Linked DNA regions of Homo sapiens: region 2 is linked to region 1. The links come from fine-mapping of genetic effects on gene expression. Tissue or cell type: blood mononuclear cells. Region 1 holds a variant in brackets; the other region holds the start of a gene. All regions are shown on one strand. Distances are between the middles of the regions.

Region 1 (2,757 bases):
CTATACCCTGCACCATCTTCACAGATCCCTCTGGACATTCATGTGCATGCAATACTTGTTTACAGTTACCTGAGTCCAGGATTCAACTCCAATTTATACATAAACACAAAGACTTTGTATGGCTCTAATACACATCGAACATTTCAAGAATAATACCGTCTGAATTGAGAGATGATGTTATTTTGCTTCATTCAGTACTTCACCAGGAGGAAACTTCATGACTTTGGAAAATCAACATCAGCGCTGCTGTGATATCTGTGTTGCCGATAAATCACATCCCTATCAACCTGCACGTGTGCTGTCATGCATGGTGATTATGCATGTGCTTGTAGATACATACATATTATTTGGCCCTCAATTTGAAATGTCAACTGGAAAGTTTATGATATCCCACTGCACACTGCGTTCTCCTACATCCAAGCTTAATCAAGTAGGCATAAGCATCTCACTATCTCATTATGCCTTTCAGAATGGTTGCGCCAGAGCATTTATTAATACATATTGTAATATGGTTTTATTTTAGTTTGCTTTCCACTTATCTTTCCTTTATATTATATTTATGGCCACAATTTGATTATTCTGTGAAAGATTTTTCAATAGGGGAGGTTATATTAGCTATGAATTTCATTTCAGGATAGTAATGGGTCATTAATAAGATATTTATTGTAGAAAGGGAGGGTTGGGTCTAACAGAGTTGAGAACTCTGACTGGTCCAACCCTGCATTTTCCAGTTGAGGAGATGGAGGCCCAGAGACACAAAGGAACCTCTCAAATTCACACAGCTTGCAGGAGGTGGCACTGGCTTCTACACTGGGTTTTGATAGCTTTTCCCTGCATTAATTAAGCAACATTATTAATCCAGACAGCCAAGAGCAACTGAGCACTTCTCATGTGGCTATGCTGCAGTAAATGCTATACAAGGTATATGCTATGAAAAGTAAATGCTATACAAGGACCATCACTGAATCTGCATATCGATTCTATGACAGCTATTAGTATGACTGGTCCACAATCCTTCACTTGGAATGCAAGAGGCTCTGCTTCAGAATTCAAAACTTTTCCAATTTTAGAAAGGTAGCAGGGTGCAAATACTGTACATTGTGCCATAACCCCCTGACGGTCTGGGGAAGTACACAGAGCACAGTAACATTTCTGTGGCAAAATCTGTAAGATTCATGGTAAGCTAGACAAATTCTATAAACGGCCTGCCAGCAGGCAAGGCAAGTTTATCAGCCACCTGACTTCAAAAATCCCTTTTGTTTCTCAGAGCTTTCTAGACTTTGGAACTATGGATCTGTATTAGTGTCCCCACTGGGTAGAACAGGATATGGAGGTTGAGGGGTTAAACTGCACACTTCCTGAGAAGGGGCTGGGGGCTGAATCCAGAGCCCATCCTCCTGCCCACCACAC[T/C]GGAAGGCTTCTCTGTGAAATTCTGATGGGCAGAAAAAGCCAAACCAGAAAATCTCTAGAGCGGTGTTTTAAAAACACAATTCTAACCTCCACTGCTCTTTCCCCACCTTTCCTAAAAGCACCTTATTAACAGCAAAATGGGAACTTTCCGTGTGGCTGGCTATGGGAAAAGAAATACTTAACTTTTCTCACTGTTAGAATCTGATGACTTTACAAATCACATCAAGAACTACCACCATCTACCTATTGTAAAACTGGAAGGAGTAAGGCATTGCTTTTGGCATCAGAGAGGTACATGCAGACAAACTGAAAAATATATACCTGGGAATGTGACCAGTCGACTTCCTGATCATCATTAGTGGATGCCCCTGGTGAATACACTGGCTACTGAGATTTATGGACCACTAGCCATGTGCCACACATCAGGCTTTAACTGCAATATCTATGAGAGTGCCACAGCAGCCTGGTGAGGGAGGTACTATCGTCCTGCAGAAGAGGAACTTGAGGCTTAGTGGCTGCACAGCTTGGATGAGGAAGGACTCAAGCTCAGCTTGCCCAATTCTGGAGCCAGCACACTCTGGCCCTGCTCTAGTGAAAGCAAAGGGGTAAGATTCTCAGGTCCACTCTTGCCTACCTCTTGCTTCTCCAATCTTTCCTTTCTTCCCTGATGGATCCAAGGGTACCCCAAGGAGAAGAAACCCCTCCCTATGAGCTCCAGCCAGATGGAGGTAGCAGCGGGGCCTACAGGGATCCTCGATCCCTGTAACTTCATCTTTTCGCTGGCCTGCAGGACACAGGAGGCTTAAAAGTCCAAATTTTCACTCTTTTGGAACTTTCTGAGAACCTCCTAAAACTCATTTTCCCCGTTTGCATGTTGGCCTCAGCTTTACAGGAACAGTAGGGAGAATGGCAGGCAGAGGTATTTCAAGCTCTCTGTTCTCCCAGTGACCTTGTCCTGTGCTGCTTTCTAGAGAACAAGACCAATAAAAGATGGTGACAGTAAGTGTTGGCATCTCCTCCTCTCTGTGCCCACAGCCACGACAGCTCTGGTTCCCCGGAGAAAAAAGCAGGATGGCTGCTGACACCTAACTTCCGAGAGGAAGGCAATTTCTGCAGCTAGACGAATGCTGTACTGGAGAAGAAGGGCCTCTTTGAAGGAACCAAGGCTATCAGACGCCATCTTCTCTTCCCAGATCAGGACTCCGTGCTCCATGTGAGAAACAGAGCCTATTCCTCTGTGTCAGGAGGAAAAATGAGCACAGTCAAAAGCAATGGCCCTCAGGGGGTGGGTGAGTTTTCTGCTATTAAAAATTACTATAGGGCTGTGGCCTCCCCTGGGAGGCGGCT
Region 2 (2,500 bases), 220 kb after region 1:
AAGACCCTTATGGAACAGGTGCTAAGGAGAGAAGTAGTATCACAGGATGGAAGGCCCCTTCAAAACCAGGTACATTAGCAAGCCCAGAATGTGTAACGGTTATCCTATTTCCCTGCCATGTGCCTCAAAGCAACATGCTCACTTCCACATCCCCATGTCATGAGGCCAGAGGAAGGGGAAGCGAGAATCCCTACACTGGGCCATCCACACGCAGGAGCAGAACAGACACTGTGCTCAGAGTTGCAGGGTCAAAATAACAAACACTGTCCCACAGTCTTAGCCGGTGACATCAAGTAAGGGCAGCGGCAGATCTCTGGATTTGGGGCGCAGTTTGGGGAACGTGGATGCAACCACACGCGTACACACACATATACAGGATTTTACAAACCGGCCCCTATCCCACTGCCTCCCTCCACACTTCACACACCAAGTGCATCCTGCCCACCTCACCGTTTCCATCATCACATTCTTTCTCCAGGAGAGTCAGCCGAGAGATGAGGGGGTCCTAGCGGGGATTCCTGGAAATGTCACCCCCCAACACCTCCGTCCGCCACCCCATCCCCTCTGCTGTACCTTTTACACACACACTCTCACACACTCACTCCTGCCATGACTGTCATCAGGCCCGCCTGCTGCGCCCGAAGCCCGGCATCTCAGCGGGCACCGGACCCCAGGCGTCTCGCTCGCAACGCCGCCTTCCCCCGCCTCGCTAGCTGATGGTTCCAGGCACTGCCTCCTGGATGTCGCCTGCTGCCTCCGCTCCTCCGCACTATTGTTCCAGGCAGCCCCTCTCGCGTCCGGGGGCGCCCTTTGGCGAGGACCCGGGCTCCGTCGGGGGCCGCATCAGCGCCGGGCACCCCTTCTCACCCACCCCTCCCTGGCTGTGGTACCTTGCCTGACAGCTGGGTCCGCGGGCCCGCGGGAGCAGGCGGCGCTAGTGACAGCGCTGGTGCCAAGCCTGGGAATAAAGCTCCGCTCCAGCCGCTGCTGCCTCCAGCGCCACCATCTTCTCCCGCCGCAGCTGCCGCCGCCGCCGCCGCCGCCGGGACCGCAGCCGCCCTCGCCCAGCTCCGGCTCCGCAGCCGCTGCTCGGACCCCTCCGGTCTCGCGGCCCCACCCCCTTTCCCCACCCTCCCTCCCGCCCTCCAGCTAGCTCGCTGGCCCCTCGTGACGCGCGCTGGGGCCGGGCGGGCCTGCGAGGGAGGGCGCGGGGGAGCGCGCGCGCGCACGCCGCCTGCTAGTAGCGCCCCTGCCTCCCTCGCCCACTCGCGTGCGCGCGCGGCCCGCGAGCCCGCGGCGGCGGCGGCGGCACCGCTGATGTCCTCCGTGGGCCGCCGGCTGCAGCGCCCCTGCCCCGGCGCCGGTGGGCGTGCGGCACACCCGCGCCTCTCGCCTTCCCTCGCGTCCGGGTTCCGAAGGGCCCGCCCTGCCTTTCGGAATGGGTTCCACAGCCCCATCCTCTGGCTCCCGGCCGGACGCAAGGAGGGGAAAATGCAGCTGCATCCCCGAGGGGACTGACGGGGGCCTCCACCCTCCTCGGTGGCAACCCAGGTGGTCCCCAGTTTCCTAGCCAGCAGCTGTGGCCAACCTCTGCGCGAAGCAACGGGCCACGCTGCAGGACCACGAAGCCAGGCAGCCGCGTCGACTCCTGCAGGGTGTTCTCTCCGGAGTGACTCCCGAGCTTTCCCGCTTCCCAGGCCCCTTAGATATCGCCTGCGCTTCAAATTCGGAGATTGACGGCGTCTCCGGAATGCGTCGCAGTCCTGCGAGTTCTCCGCCAGGGGGAGAGCCGCGCGGGCTTGGGCCTGAGCGAAGACAGCCGGGCTGCAGCCCTCCAGGGGAACTGCCGAGTCCCGCCGGGGACAGCGGAGAGCCTGCGGATTGTGAAGCCGAGGAAGGCTCGGCTTGGTTTTCCTACCCGCTCCTCAGTTCTGGTTGATCGGAACTTAAGTGTCTTTGAGCCTAGCACAGGCCATCCGCCCTAGATATGGCTCCTAACTCGAGAGGCCACCCTTTGCGGCAGGGACCAGGTGGCAAGTGCTGTGCATTAATGAAAAGCTGTGGGCTAGACAGGCCCCGGGAGGCCTGGGCTCTGGCGCCAGCCCCACCTGTAATTGGCAATGCAATAGCTAAATCATTCCCCCTCTTAGAAACACAGATTTTTCCATAATAATGTTATAATGCACAAAGCCTTGTAGTTTGCAAAGCCCTCTCCGCACATGTATTCTCCAGTAAAATGAAGATAAGCGCTGGTTATCCAGATCCCTTGGGAAATGGATCTTTTACCACACCGTGTTTCCATATTATTTTAAGCACGTCTCTAGAGAAGTCTGGGGGTGTAGCCTAAAGCATTCTGAAAGTCTTGTTTTAGCTTTAAAATTCATATGAATTTTGCATTGTACTTTGTAATTTTTTTTTGCTTTAATAAAACAATAGCTACCTTCTCAAAAAGATTTTAGTAAAATTTAAAATTATATACTAGGAAGATGTCTGCTTGTCC

The links. PIP is the estimated chance that this variant, and not a neighbour inherited with it, causes the effect.
Region 2: APBA1 starts here. The variant in region 1 is fine-mapped to the expression of APBA1 in blood mononuclear cells (TOPMed, PIP above 0.99).

What each region holds. Positions count from the first base shown.
Region 1 is chr9:69,452,606-69,455,362 of GRCh38, forward strand. All of the region lies in intron 8 of APBA1 (amyloid beta precursor protein binding family A member 1), which reads right to left. Among named protein-coding and RNA genes, the nearest start is that of ENTREP1, 130 kb to the left of the region's middle. The variant T/C (reference allele first, on the strand shown) is at 1,411.
Region 2 is chr9:69,671,263-69,673,762 of GRCh38, forward strand. It overlaps APBA1 (amyloid beta precursor protein binding family A member 1), which reads right to left and starts at 1,109. Exons shown (of 13, transcript NM_001163.4): 1 at 891-1,109. RefSeq lists silencers at 877-956, 1,137-1,186.